Regions from separate parts of the Homo sapiens genome. Here region 2 is linked to region 1. The links come from fine-mapping of genetic effects on gene expression. Tissue or cell type: subcutaneous fat. Region 1 holds a variant in brackets; the other region holds the start of a gene. All regions are shown on one strand. Distances are between the middles of the regions.

Region 1 (8,191 bases):
ATAATGCTTTTATATCAAACTTTTTTTCTTCTGGTCCAAATTCAATCCAAGATTATGTGCTGTGTTTACTTATAATTGCTTTTTAGTCACTGCCAATAGATAATTTTCCTCAGTATTGGTTAATTTTTTTTTTTTTTGTCTTTTATGACTTTGATATTTTTGAATAGTACAGGCTGGTTGTTTGGTAAGATGTTCCTCAATATGGCCTTCTCTGTTGTTTTCTCACGATTAGATTCAGGTAATATTTTGTGGTAAAAATTTTATAAAAATGATTTTGTGTTCTCAGGGAGGTACATGATATTGCTTTGCTTCATTTCTTGCAGTGTGAATTCTTTTAGTTATCATTCCTTCCAATTATACTAGTTGGCCTTTTATTTTAGTGTTCAGATTTCTCTTCTTCTCCACTTAAAAAATCATGCAGGAAATGGAACACAATATTGGAGGAATATTGGACTTGTGAGTTGGGGTGCAGCTGTGGAGGTTAAATGTACTTTCGTCTCAGACCACACACATTTTAAAGTGAACCTGCCTGGGACTGTTCTTCACCATTTCCTGGGAAGTCTTTATTGCGTGATTCACTGTTTCTTGGTATATATGAGATATTTTCTGTTTGTCCCCTTGGGTCTATTTTCAAACTTTTCTCACCCTTCCTTTTGCCCAGGGTACTGACTTCTATGGTTTCTTGTTGGGTTATGTCAATGATGGATGCTGGCTGGAGCTGGCAGCTTCGAAAAGAGTAAGTTTGAGGCACTTATTCTTCTAGCTTGTGCCCTGAGAAGTGACTACAGGTTGACTGTGTCCAATGCTAAAGGCCACATCTCTTGCCCGGTAGACTTTACTGGAAAACTCACGTATTTGGTAATTGCTCCTGTTCCTGTTTTTTAGGACTAATGATTGTAATAGCTTCACACAGTTGCTAGCCTCAGGCTACCCTATTATTCCTTTATCAAACTTACCTTTTCACCCAGTTTGTAAGATCTCCATGAGTGTAAGATCTCAGTTTGACAAATATGCCATTTATCTTTTTTCTTTATTTACATTCTTATTTTATTTTGGTGGAGATCATCATTAAATTCACCCACAGCTTTCTGTGAAAAGATACATGGATAGTACAATTTTTGATACCTCAAGTCAGAAAATTTCTTTGTTTAACCCTCATTTCTGATTAATTTGGGCTGGGCGAAGAATTCTAAGTTGAATATATTTTTCCTCTTAAATTTTTGAAGAGGTGTTTTCCATTTTCCTCTACCTTCTTGTGTTGTTATTAATAAGACCAATGCCAGGCTGATTTCTGACCTTTTTAATAAAATAATGATTTTTTTTCTGTAGCGCTTTCATGTTTACTTCTTTGCTCGGTGTTCTGGAATTTCTTAAGTCTCTACTTCGTGTGGATCTTTTTTCCTTCACTATGTTGGAAACTCAGGAGATGCATTCTATCTGGAAATTTTGTGTTACATTTTCTATTTCTGAGTATTGCTGTTTTGAACATTAGACTTCTTATACCCATACTCTAATTTTCAAATTTCTCCATAGTTTTATTTTTTTTTAAAAAAAGCTAGATCCTAAAAAATGTCCTTAATTCTATCTTCCAGAATTCGTATTAAAATTTTTATTTTTGGTATATTTATACATACATACACATATATTGTGTATTTGGTTAATTACGTATGTCAAATTGATTGAGCTATTGGTTGGCCAGATATTTAGTTAAACGTTATTTCTGGGTTATCCATAAGGGTATTTCTTGATGAGATTAATTTTCAAATTAATATACTAAGTAAAGCAGATTGTCCTCCCCAGTGTAAGTGGGTCTTGTCCAATGTGTGGAAGGCCTGAATAGAGTAAAATGCTAAGTAAGAGAGAATTTGCTCTCTTTGCCTAACGGGGTTTGAGCTGGGACATTGGTCTTCTGCCTTCAAACTTGGACTTGAGCTAAAACTTACACCATCAGCTCTCCTGGTTCTCAGACCTTTGATTTGAACTGGGACTATACTACTGGCTTTCCTAGGTCTCCGGCTTGCCAAGTGCAGATCCTGAAAATTCTCAGCCTTCCAGCCTTTGTATTTGTGTGTGCCAATTTCTCATAGTAAATATCTTCGTGTGTGTGTGTGTGTATCTCCTGTTGGTTTCTCTGAAGAACCCAAACCAATACAGATTTTTATATGTGCATATTTTTCATTTCTAAAGCTCTTTTATTATTTTCTCAATATCTCTTTGTGGTAGCTTGTTGCTCTTATTTTATAAACACTTATTTTATATCTCTGTGGGAGTTAATTATACATTTTTTCCTTTTATATTTTATTCTATTCCCTGAATTGTCTCTTTCTCCTAGAATTTCATTGTTTGTTTTGGCTTTTTTATTTTGCATCAGAGGCATAAATACCTGATGAGCCTTTAACGTCTGCTCATATTTAAGAAATAATCACTAGAATATTGATTAGAAGTTCTGCACGTATAGGTGGGACTTATCTACGTGTGAGCTTACTATAAGGTGCATCAGAAGCTCTCCAAAAGTGAGTATTGATAGGTCTTTTTTGTTAGGCTACTGAGTTTCCCCAGAAGGGAATCTTTATTGCTGTGCTCTTGGAGATGAGGCTTATTTCTGGTATTTTGAGAGCCATGCAAATGAAACGGGTTAGAGGGTGTCATGGACTGAATGTTTGTGTCTCCTCTATATTTATATGCTCACCAGAAACCAACCATTCTGAACTTTGATCTTGGACTTCTAGCCTCCAAAACTGTAAGAAAATTAATTTCTGTTATTTAAGCCACCTATTCTGTGGCGTTTTTTTATGGCAGCCTGAGCAGACTAATATGGTGTGTATCTATGTCTTTCTCTTAGTACCACTCTTCTTAATATAATGTTTTCATGCCTCATATGTTGCCTTGGTTGTACACGATGTCCTTGGATCTGTTGTCTTATCTCTACAAGGCTGAACCTTGAATTTTCTGCCAAGGAAAAGAAGGGAGTATACGTCTGGTTATGCAGTATATACATTTGGTGTGAAGGTCTAAGTGCCACATCTAAATGCTTTCCACAGATCCACCTGTTTTTAGCCCCACTCTGAACACTTCCCATCAGGCAGATGACTCCAATTCCTGCATGTCTGGGGTTTTACAGATTGAGTTACCTTGTTTCTTGGAAAATTTGTTGCCATCTTTTTCTATTGTTGTTTCCTCTCCTGTCTCTTTC[C/TC]TTGGAAATGTATGTCTTTGAAATGTTCTAGTTGTTGTTTTCCTGATTGTCATTTTATAATAGTCATTTTAATGAGGTCCTTTGGACACCAAAATATCATGGAGTTGATTAATTCCACTAGTTCTCCCACCCTAGAGAGCCATTTTTTTCAGACCACATCTGCAATAGATTGCAGAATGAACAGCAGGGACAGAGGAAGAGATCAAACTGGCTGGAACACCTAGAGCAGGGGAGGGAAGTAGGAAGCCTGTGCCCCATGATAAAGCCAATATTTAGAAACCAGACTCTTATGGAAATCAGTTGGCCAGACAGTGTTAAGAAACAGTGATAAAGAACAAACGAGGGCTTCCAGCTGTCTCTGAGCCATAGTGAATGACTTCCCCCAACCTTCCTCCTGCCTAATAGCAGAGAGGGCGGGGGAAACCACAAAGAAGCTGGAGGAAACCGCAAAGAAGCTGGATGTAAGCAGATGATGTCTCTTTTCCAAGTCACATGAGAACTAGACAGCCTACAAAGGGGAAAAGGGAAAGAGGAACATTATATTAGATAAAGAGGCAGAATTTTAGGAATAATTGATACTGACTCTTTAAATGCCAAAATGAGACTGCTTAAAGAATAAAAATGGATTAAAGGGCTATGCACTCTGTACAAAATGTATTTAAGAGGATCACTAAGATGATGAACCAACTGAAGTAACAGTATCAGCAAGTTGAACACAGGAAACTGGGTGGAGGCCAGTTTTAAAAACATTTTTTCCAAAGCATTAACTAAACCGCAACATTTCGCTCTTTCTTTCTGACTGCAGTTGTGCTGTAATGGCATCATCCATTATTGCATTAAGTATTATGGACATACGGGGACTATGAGATATTTAGCAAAAACTTTTTTAAACCTCAATTTATAGCCTCTGGTTGGGTGACCTTGGGAAAGCGAGTAAAGTTATTATTTAGCTACATTTCTTTCAATCAAGAGAATAACATCTGCCTTGCAAGTTGTTATGCTGTTATGCAGATCAGAGAAATTGTCTTAGAACCATGCCTAGCTCTCATTAATGACAATTGTTGATAATTCAGTACAAAGACAAAACACAATAAAACTGAACATGTAAGCACAAAATAACTAGGAGAGGTTAACTTATTAGCAAGAAAAGAATTTGAGAAATTTGTTACAAACCTGGAAGTGCTAAGTTAACTTATCACAAGTGGAGCATCTACAACCAAAAGGCAGCAGGGACAATTTCAGCAGTTTGCTCAAGCCAGAAAGGAGACTGATATGTCACACTTCTTTTGCATCATGCATTAGGAGATTCTGTGCTATGAGCTTTGCAAGTCAGATTTTGTATGATGGGCAGAAAGGGAGATATCAAGTTTGAAACTTTTCTCTTTGTTGTGGCCTTTAAATACTGCCGGGGTATGGCTCGTTAAAAGAAGATGAAGCAAAGTCTAGAAATATAAGTTTTACATTTTAATCACATAGGAAGCTCGATGCAGAGATTTTCAGAGGACATTTTTCAAATCATGAACTTCTTAGAATTAAAGGCCTCTAAAGAAACCAACTTTTCAGATCCTTTATGACTCACAAGATTGAATTTTCTACTCATATGTCAAGACACTGAACACATTTGTCTTAAAACTTCAGGGAGAGAAAACAAGTTTATTATTGATTTGTTCAAGGAGGTGGTAGTGCAGATACAAGCGGGTTATGTGTGTAGTGTGGGTGCCAGTGTGGTCTGCACCTGAGTGCCCTGCTGGAGCTAAAACATGACCAGTCATGTCTGGAGGACACGTGAGACTGGTTCACCAGAAATCTATTTATATTAGGAATGAAGCACCTCCTAGGACGTAAATCATCCTAAAGGGAAGAGGAATCAGATATATGGGGCTGGTTCAATGGCAAAGACTATGTCACCTGACAGGTAATTTTGAGGATAGCATGGTTTATGTTACTTAGATTCTCAGCCTCCCAACCTTCTTCCAATTTTCTGGCGTTCGTATACATTTTAGGAATTGTGATAGTTTTAGGTGTCAACTTGACAGAGTTAAGCAATACTCAGATATCTGGTAAAGTATTATTTCTGGATATTTCTGTGAGAGTGTTTCTAGAAGAGTTTGGCATTTGAATCAGTGGGCTGAGTAAGGAAGAGCCACGCTTACCCAGTGTGGGTGGGCACCATCCATTCAGTTGAAGACACAGATAGAACAAAAAAGGAGAAAAGAAAAAAGGCAAATACTTTCTCTCTCCTTTCTAGAGCTGCAGTTCTCTTCTTCTTCTGCCCTTGGACACCAGAACTCCAGATTCTCTAGCCTTCAGCCTGGAACTAAGAGTTATACCAGCATACCCCTAGGCTCTTAGACCTTCGGACTCAGATTTAGCTATGCCACTGGCTTCCTTGGCTCTCCAACTTGCAGATAGCATATTGTGAGAATTCTCAGCTTCCACGGTTGCATGAGCCAATTCTCATAATAAATCCCCTCTCTATCTATCTATCTATCTATCTATCTATCTATCTATCTATCTATCTATCTATCTATCCTATTAGTTCTGTTTCTCTGGAGAAGATTAATTCAGGTATTATAAATAATTTTTGTCATAAACCTATAATAACAGCTCTTTAAATTATTTGGAAAGAATCAGCCCTTTCTATTTACCTGTGTTTCATAGCATAACATCAAAGAGTGAGAGTTGGGGAGTGTGCACTCAAACCCCATCTACCCATCTCCACTTCTGCATGAAATATAGAATGTCTTTCCTAATCTGAGGACTCCAGGGAACCAAGATCCCTTTGGCCTTTCAAGGATCTTAGAGGATGGCAGCAGTGACCATCAAGAGCTGGGTCAGCATTGAGCCTTGGATGTTCACAGATGTAAGACACATTCATGTGACTACACAGATACAACACAGGCCTCAGAAATGAGAAAAGAAGAACATGGTTAACATTCATTCATTCAGCAAGTAATTGTTGACGAATTGACTAAATTGCTAGAATGCTTGGATGCTGTCTAATGAGACAACTTTGCAAAGGCCTAGAGATTCTTCAACAGACCATTTGAAGGAAGGTCATTGCCTATGAAATATGAACTACCTTTCTTAATGTCACCTCCATGAAGGCAGGGGTTTTATCCATTTTAATCACTACTCTAAACCCAGAGACTACAATGGGAACACATCCATGATAAGATCTACTAAATACTTATCAAATTTGTTGAATGACTATGATTTCATTTACTATTCTGGGCAGATTGTTCAATAAAACATGGTTTAATGGTTAATTTTGTGTTTCAACTTGGCTGAGCCATGGAGGTGCCCAGATATTTGGGTGAACATTGTTCTGAGTATGTCTGTGAGGGTATTTCTGAAAAGACTAACATTTGAATTGGTGGACCAAGTAGAGCAGATTGCCTTGCCCATTGTGTGTAGGCTTCATCCAATGTGTTAGAGGCCTGAGTATAACAAAAATGCTGAGTAAGGGAGAATTCACTCTGCCTGACTGTCTTGGAGCTGAAACATCAGTCTTCTCCTGCCTTTGAATTCAGACTAGAACTATAATATTGGCTCTCCTGGGTCTCCAGCTTGCTGACTGCAGATCATGAGACCTCTCAGGCTTCATAACCTGTGAGACAATTCCTTATTTTTAAAATATATTTATATATATATATATATAATATATTTATATATAAATATAATATATATAAATATATATATAAATATATATATAATATATATAAATATATATAAATTTATATTTATATATAAATATATAAAATATAATATATATAATATATATATTTATATATAATATATTAGATATTATATATAAATATATATAATATATTATATATTATATATAAATATACATATTTATATATATAATTTATGCTACATATATATGTAACACAAACATATATATTTGCATGATATATAAATGACATATTATGTATTCTATAACTATATATTACATACTTATTAGCATAATCTATATGTAATCCATGAGTTTTAGTCTGGGTTCCCCAGAGGAACAGACTGATAGGATATATATATATATATATGTGTGTGTGTGTATACATCCCCACAGCCCCCCACACACATATTCCATGTATATTATACACACATACATATATAATACATATACACCATTATATAAAATACCTTATATATAATCCATGTATATTATATACACACATATATTAAATACATTTGTTCTCTTCAGCCTTTCTTATGTTTAACTTGCTTTTATTTTTCTACCTTCCTGAAGAAGAAACTTAGATTATTGATTTTAGATATTGTTTTTCTTTTAATACAAGCATTGAACACTACAAATTTCCCTCTAGTGCTGCTTTAGCTGCCTCCCACACACAATCTTGAGAAATTAAATTAATATGAGTAAATATCTATATTCGTGACTCTAGTTATAAAAAGAGAAAAAAGAGGAAGAAAAAATACCATATTTATTTGAACAGCTTGCTCATTGTAGTTAATAACTTACTGATAAAAGAGAAAAGGAATCAGTGAGCAGTATTACTGACACATCAGTAAACACTGATAGCACCACAACCTAGAGCATGGGTTTTTTTTCCAGGACACTTCTGATACCATCATTATCTTGCAGAAGCAGTTATTTTAGAGCCAAGTCCCTATAAAACCAATTAAAGAGTGTAAATATGGTTGATGTTTAGGAAGTCTTCCATTGGCCACTCTGGTCCATTTTCCAGATTATGACATTTGTATCTGGGTGGTAGTGGTAATAATGGCAGTGTTGCTGGATCAGAAAGGAAAAAGAAAGAAATGGATCCATAATTGTAGTAAATATTTATTGAATAAACATTAACTATTTACTTAATAACAGGGAAGAAAAGGAATTAAGTCATGAAACTTCCTTTTATTGTGTAATTACTTTACTTCCTTGCAGCTGGACATTGTGCGGGAAAAATACTTTTTGCAGTATCTTCACAACCCAGCAGCCACAATGACCTTTTAAAACATAAGTCAAATCCTGTCACT
Region 2 (8,191 bases), 150 kb before region 1:
TTGACTATTAAAGGCAGTGAGTTGGTGAGAAGCTGGATGAGCCATTGGAAGATTTAGGAAGTTCACTTCTGAGGCTCACATATGCTCCCTTTCCATTCTTTCTAACTTCCTATGAAATTAAACTGAAAAAAAAATGTGGTAGTTAGCTCATTATATGCTAGCTGTAACAAACATTAAGCAACATATTCATAATGATTTCGTATACTGCCTTAGAATTTGGAAAAGTTTAGGGTTGGCTAGATATCCTGCTTTAGAATGTTGTTAGAGGTTTGAAATGATAGTTCCTCTTCCTTTAGACTAGCTACACATCCTGTGGCAAATAGGGACTTCTAAATCACGTCCATTATTAGTAGTCTGTATTCAAAAGGTATTTATTTATTTTTATTTTATTTTATTTATTTTTTTTTTGAGATGGAGTCTCGCTCTGTTGCCAGGCTGGAGTGCAATGGCGCAATCTCAGCTCACTGCAACCTCCGCCTCCCAGGTTCAAGCGATTCTCCTGCCTCAGCCTCCCGAGCAGCTGGGACTACAGGCACACGCCACCATGCCCAGCTAATTTTTGTATTTTTAGTAGAGACAGGGTTTCACCATGTTGGCCAGGATGGTCTCGATCTCATGACCTCGTGATCCGCCTGCCTCAGCCTCCCAAAGTGCTGGGATTACAGGCGTGAGCCACCGCACCCGGCCTCAGAAGGTATTTCTTAGTGATATTGATGGTAAGGTTTCTCTCATTGAAAAGCATTTTTATAAATAAGAACAAATCATCTACTTTCTCCTCTGCCCTCCTCTTCAGATATAGTTGAAAATTACAAAGGTGGCAACGTAGTGACAGATGTAAACAAGGCATAAAGATACATTGAGTGGGGTTCAGTTACTCAGTTATGCATTCAACCACAGACCTACTTTTTAGTTTGTTAATCTTCTAACAATTACTACTAGGTCATTATCAAAATCCTATGAAAAAGGAGTCTCAAAACATCTTTCACAAAATGTTCAAAAAGACATAATACCTTGAATGCAGCTTTCTTTACCTCTCAAAACAGGTCAGGTAAAAGTGGCAATCAGCAAGGCAAGTGTATTCATTAGGGGACAGCAAACTGATGAAATGGCAAAAAGGTGAAGACATCATAGAGTGAAGATTGTTTTATAGGATAAATAACTTTTGTAATTGTCAGATGAAAAGATTAAAATTAGTTTATTAATACTGAAAAGCTATTTTAAATTTTATTTACTATTCATCACCTTTTCTTAGGTGATGATTTCTCCTACAAATTACAAAATATTGAGTTCCATTTGTAGTAAAGAAATTTAAATAAAAGATTTAGATAATAGAAATTATTTACTCTAGGATCCTAAATATTATTAATTTAAAATCTTACTTTTAGAAATTATACGTCAGCTGTCTCTCTCAACTTTTTATTTTTTCCTTCCCTTATTTTGAAAATGAACAAATTTGATTAAAATGACAAATTCACTTAAGTTAGAGAGAATTAATATTCCCAAATGTTATATTTGCCCTTCTCAAATGTAAGACCTTGAGTATCTTTAAGTTAATTTCTTCCTGCCTCAGAAATAAAATACTAAATCAGTAAAATTCTTCAGGGTTTATAATTTAAAGTTAAATATATTGTTAAATATATGGAATATAGAAATATAATTATATATACTATTTTTAAAATAACAAAGAAGCAAAAATAAAATAGAATGAACAACACACCTTCCAAGACCAGTATAAACAGCTGTTATGTTATAATTGCTACCCAAAGGCAATGTTATGTAAATTCATTTTATAGGCCTTGGATAGCTTCCTCATGTTGGCCGCTCAAAAGCTCTATACTGACATTTTCAGGAAACTAGCAGCATACTTTACCTTGGAAATGTAATATTATAAAAATACCACCATTAGTAATTTTATGTACTTCTACATACCCTTCTTGAATTTGAAATAATGGATAAGTTCAGGTAATAATTTTTGCTGTCTTTCAAATTTTATGACTAAAATATTGAGTTGTGTTTTATGGCCTGCATTTATTATGTTCTGTAGAGTCAGCCAGCAGCTTTAGGCAAAGAATATCTTTGGAGTCTGGAATCAGATGCAAAGGAATCAGAGGTTTAAGATGAATCATACATTCAGGAAACATAAGAATTTTCCAAAGATTCTAAAATACATATTGTACAATATATGAGCAATAATTTTCCAACCCTCTATACAACTTCTTTTTCTTTTGTGGCTAGGATAATTTTCTCTTCAAATATGGGGCAAGATTATTGCCATAAACTTTATTTATTTATATATTTATTTATTTTGAGACAGAGTCTCACCTCTGTCGCCCAGGCTGGAGTGCAGTGGTGTGATCTTGGCTCACTGCAACCTCTACCTACCAGGCTCAAGGGATCCTCCCAACTCAGTTTCCCGAGTAGCTGGGACTATAGGTGCACGCCACCATGCCCAGCTAAATTTTTATATATTTTTTTTTTTGTAGAGGAGGGGTTTTGCTATGTTGCCCAGGCTGGTCTCATACTCCCAAACTTAAGCGATCTGTTCGCATTAACCTCCCAGAAGTGCTGGGATTACAGGAGTGAGCCACCATGCCCAGCCTAAATTTGGATAGTGTTTTTGGAGGAAGAGTTTGTTTAACAAAGTACTCTGACAACAGTAAGGAATGTTTAGTTATGAGGAATTTTAAAGAGATTCCAGTAATTATCCAATGTTAATTTCTGAGAGTCAAACTAAAAAAGAGGAATTTAAAGTGGTAGATTTAATAATAAGGAAGATTATGTAGTATTTACACAACAAAACTCCCAAACTCCTTTAGACTGTTTTCTTTTACAATCAGATTCTCATGTTAATGGAGATATAATTTCTTACTGTAACTTGTTTAATAGAATGAGAACATTGTTTCTATTGAAGAAAAAGACATAGAGCAGGGTTTGGATCTGGATTCTAATCTTGCTGAGTAACTAACTTTATGCAAGACCTAAAAGGTCCTAGAGCTGTCATAGTCACTTTGATAAACTTTGGCTTCTTTACCAACATGAAAGTCTAACACCCTGGCTGTGATCAGTGAGACAGTGTATCTGCACACGAAAGCATTTTGAATAATTTAACGCAAGTTATTATTTATTAAGGAAAAGCACATGCAAGACACACTTTATTTTTACAGTGGTATAAATGCCACAGGGTAGCATCGTTATAAATTCAGTTTATTTTAGGGCTTTAGCAACCTATAATTTCAGAGTCCACCTAAAAAAACTTTTGCACCAGGAACTGTCTTTCTGTTGCATTTAGCTAAAGAGATTTACCCCCATTTTGAGCACTCAGGCCCATTAGCAATGGTAACGACTAAAGTCCAGTTAGAATATAAAAATTATGCAGTGTATCATAAATTACACCACACTATACAGACAGATAAAATTTACTTTTCTTAGAATTCAGGTCAACAGCAGAAACAAAAATTATCATTTGTGCATAACCTTAATTATTCCCCTCAAGTACACAGAAAAAATAAATGCAGTATACATTTCTTCGAAGAGGTTTGTGGTTACTACCTTTCCTGTGCTGTACTAGTTTTTACATAGGGAACCTTTGTTGCCCTTTAAAATGTAATTTAGAAATGTAACTGATGTGTTTTGCCACCAATAAAACAAATACATATGACAAAATGAATGGATACTCATTTCAGTCTGTACGATTTGTTTTTAAATTATTCTATTTGCAGCTAGAGGAGAAATGTGAGACCATTTCTTTCCTCTCTGCCAATGGCAAGCCGATTTCCCCAGCCCACGTGGACAATTGAACATTAAGTCTAGCGTGCTTCCAGTCTCCCGACTCCTGCCGGGCCATCTGTGGGCACACACACATCTAGGCTAGTACACTGGATGGGGTAAGGCAGTCGACATGGCATCTCTGGTTTGACTACCGGGATTGTGCTATGTAGCTATCCCATGTGTCTGCCGCATCAGTTTATTGGACAGGGAAAGAAAGTGTACTCAGCAGAGTGCACACAGTTACTGCCATCCATTCTTTCGTTCATACACACATTTTACTCCGCTCTCCACGTGCGTTCCGAACGAGAACTGGAACACACACACACACACACACACACACACACACGTGTTCACCGAACCTCACCCAGACTCAGGCCCGGACAAGTCCCCCGCCCACCCAAAGCTCCCCGCCCTTCGCCCTTCCGCCTGCCTCTTCCCACCCTCTCCGACTCCACGTGGGCGCACCCCGGCGCCAGGCGGCCGCGCTGCCCACAGAGCCCCTAGCCGGCCCCGGCACTGGGAGGGAAGGTGCGGCCCTGGGGTCGGACGGACAAAGCCGGCATCCAATCGAGCCCGGCACTGCCTCCCCGAAGGGAGGGAGCGTCTGCTCGGACGGGCCCAATGAGCAAGGAGGCCGAGTGGGACTTCCTCCCGGAATCCCGTTGGCCAGAATAGCCGGGCCGTGGGTGACACGTAAGTTGGGCAGGAGGTGGCGGGGCGGCAGAGGCACCAGCCGACCCGTCAGTGACACCGCTGTGCCGTCCCCAAAACCAGCCGAGACAGCTGGCCCCCACCCTTCCACCCATTGGGCAGGCCGCACGGGGGCGCGGCCCGGAGTCCTGGTCCCTTTGTTGGGCGCGCACCCCCTCCCTTAGGTGGCAACAAAGTCGTGCAGTGGGAGCCGCCGCGATAGGGCGGGGAGTGGCCAGGGCGGGACTCCAAGAACTGCCCGGGGGCAGCGGGGCCAAAAAGTGGGAAGAAGGAAAAAAGGCAGGAGGCATCTGGGGACAGGCGCGAGGGCAGCCGGCTCTGAAGTATGCGGAGGGCCTCCTCCCGGCCCCGGGCATTCGCGGAGAACGAGCCTCGCAGAAGTTTGGCTGCAGCTGCCCGGGCGGCGTCGATGGCTGCGCGCCCCGCGCCGCGCGGGGGCTGAGCGGGCGCCACTTCCCCTCCGGGCCGGCTTTTGTGTCTGGCATCTCCTCCTCATGCTGCGTCTGGCCACCTACTGCGGCGGCCGCTGCTGAGACGCTCGCTCGGACCAAGGGGAGGAGACGGCGGGGGCGGCCGCGGCTTTGGGTCCAGGCGGGACTATGGGAAACGGGATGTGCTCCCGAAAGCAGAAGCGGATTTTCCAGACGCTGCTGCTGCTGACCGTCGTGTTCGGCTTTCTCTACGGCGCGATGCTCTACTACGAGCTGCAGACGCAGCTGCGGAAAGCCGAGGCGGTGGCGCTCAAGTACCAGCAGCACCAGGAGTCCCTCTCCGCCCAGTTACAAGGTACGGCTAACGGGACGCGCGCAGCCGGTGGCCAACTTTGCCCCGCGCCTCCACCCGGGCAGGAAAAGTGGCTTTGGTGAGCTATTGGCACTGTGGTTGCCACCTCTGACCTTCAGGGACGTCAGAGGTGAGCGTTTCAGGACTGCCGGCACCAGAGTGTCAGGGGAGATGACATTCTCATCCTCCCGCTTCTTCCTCCCAGCGGTTAGGTTTAGAACTTCGTAGCACCAGCCCATCGTCCCGCTGGGCGTTTGGTGGGCGGGTGCACAGATAGTCCTTTACCCGAGCTCTTGTCAAAGGCCCAGCTGCAATCGGGGCAGGGAAACTGGTAGCCCTCCGCCGCTTCTGCCAGCCCTGCTCTGAGGAGCATTGTTCCGTGGATTCTAGGTATTTGCTTTCTTGTTGACTTTGTCAGTTGCTTAAAAAATGAAGAGTTTGGCAGAGATTTCTCAAACTGTGCTGTTTTTCAAGGGAAAATTAAGCCATGACCCAGCAGCTTAATTAAAGTCATGGCCCAGTCGAATGGAAGGAACCTAGATCTGGACCTGCTAGTTTCTTATTTCTTATTCTTTTAATTTAATAGGATGTCTTTAGAGATGCTGGATGTGTGGGAAAAGTCCACACTACATACCATTCACCATCCTGCAGTAGTTTATTTCTTTAAAAACAGGTTTACTTGTCTTCCTAAGTAGCTTTTACTTCATCACAGAGATGCATGTATGTTACAGTTAGCTTCGGGAAGCCAAAGAGGAGAAACACAGGTTTTCACTTTGCCATGCACAGCAAACCCAACTTGAGCAAGACCTGTAGAAGAACTTAAAGTTTCTATCCTATTTTAGAATCTAATTTAATGTAATTTTCACAAACATAATTTACTTTAAATGTAAATTCAGAATTTGAATTTGAATTTACTTTTAACGTAAATTCAAAGTCAGCACCATGTCCTCTTGTTAAGGACGTATCCTATACATATTTTTTTTGCAAGCTTTTACTTGTGGTTAGTTTTCAATACTTATGCAGCTTTCTCCCCAACCAAAAAATAATAATAAATAGCTGTAAGTGGTGAAATGTTGGCAGACTTTGCTGATGATGCAAATATAGCTTGTTTAATATTGCTAGGTAGATAGATGCAAGCTAGAGGGATGTTTCTGTGTATGTGTGTGCAGATATGAAACAGATGCCTCTTCTTTGCTTCAGTTATTTTGAGTGTTTTCTAGTAAAAAATTTAAGATGAGAGAAAATGATACACATCCGATTGTTTGGACTTAACTTGCTCTTCCCAACTTAGAAGAAAGAAAAGTATTTTTAGCTTACTGACGCTGCATAGCCACAGGCAATGAAAATATATGGCTCGGCTTGGTTCAAAAGTAAAACCCGTTTTGATACGCTCTTAGGTTCACAAAATTTTCTTTAAACTCATTGAAATTTACCCATGAGTTATTGTTGGTATGAGAATATGGATATTTGTTTACTTATTTATTTACAAGGTATCAGTTGCTTCCCTGTGAAGTTCCATGGAGTCAGACCAAGGGAAAAATTTACCGTCTAATAGTATAACAGGACTAGATTTTCATAAACATGGCTGGAAGGGGCATGTATGGTGGATTATATGAGGTTGTGTGTGCCTTGGTCTCTTAGGAGTCCCATGAGGGCAAAGGCTGTCATTTTCACCATTACCTCCTCAGCACCACACTGTGCCTGACACTCATTAGGGGAATCAATGCATGTTTATTCAAACAACAAACAAAAATTATTCTGAACTGTGGCGAGTAAGTTCATCCCAGGCACTTTTGTCTTTCTGAGACTTTGCTTCTGTGTCTTTGCTTTTTGAAAGCCAAATAAAACAAGAAAATATTTTGTTCAAGTAGCTCCTTTGCCTCAACGGCCTATGATGGACGATGGATATTGTTGACTGAGGCCCTAATTTCTGAATAATGGCCTTTATTTGCAGTATTTCATTTTGAAATTTTAGAAATTTCTTTTCTAATTTGCCTTTTCTTTTTTTAGTGGTGGTGGTGGTAGTGGGGAAGAGAGGTGGTAAATGGTAATACAGGATCATTAAAATATACAACTTTTGTTTTGCAGCAGATGGAAATGTTCTACCTAATTTGAATAAGTGGCTTCAAAGTCCCTTTCTTAATTTATTCTTTTGTCATTTCCTCTCTAATTATGGTGCTACAAAACTTGCAGTATAATTGTGCATGAATAATTATTTCACAAGCAGGCTAAAGTATTTTTTTGTTTGTTTTTGTTTTTTGTGGATTCACTTTTGACTTCAGTAGCATTTATTTTGGATTTCCCATGTGTAAGCCATTTAATGTACATTTTCTGGTGGTATGCAACTTTTGCTTCCCTTTTCCAAGACAAATGACATTTTACTCAACAGCACTGTGTACCACCTGCATAGATGGGCTTTTAGGACATCAGGCTCTCCAGTCTTAATACTTGTTTAGTTAGGTGGGATTGCTTGACCTGGCTTGGATTAAGATCAGAATTAATGACTTTAAAAAGAGTGGTCTTTTTAAAAATGACTCTTGAAAAAATTTCAGTAGTTTAGACCTATAATCTGATGATGTGCGTTCGTTAAGTGAGCGTATTTAGGTCACCTTCAGTTTAAGAATAGATTATACTCCATAGATTCCTTTGAAAGTGGGTTACTTGTAACCCCAAGTTAACAAGTTTTATTGTAGAAGAGCCCCATAACTAGAAGATGGTGGGGATGGCATGCAGAAAGGTCAGAGACTAGGCAAACCCCTTCCACTATAAAAATATCTATGTCTGCCTGTTTATCTATCCCTCTTAGCAATCAGTCATCTATTTATCTCCCATACTGGCACCTTAATTATACTGAGGAGTGGGACAGAGGTCACATACTGGTGGCAAAGGTAATAACAATCTTTGGCCAGCACAGTGTTTATATAACCTT

The links. PIP is the estimated chance that this variant, and not a neighbour inherited with it, causes the effect.
Region 2: it holds the start of GOLIM4, and the variant in region 1 is fine-mapped to the expression of GOLIM4 in subcutaneous fat (GTEx, PIP 0.93).

What each region holds. Positions count from the first base shown.
Region 1 is chr3:167,937,178-167,945,368 of GRCh38, reverse strand. No RefSeq gene overlaps it. Among named protein-coding and RNA genes, the nearest start is that of GOLIM4, 150 kb to the left of the region's middle. The variant C/TC (reference allele first, on the strand shown) is at 3,194.
Region 2 is chr3:168,092,173-168,100,363 of GRCh38, reverse strand. It overlaps GOLIM4 (golgi integral membrane protein 4), which reads left to right and starts at 4,440. Exons shown (of 16, transcript NM_014498.5): 1 at 4,440-5,265. The coding sequence starts at 5,079. RefSeq lists enhancers at 3,665-3,714, 3,912-4,413 and silencers at 4,085-4,324, 4,615-4,664.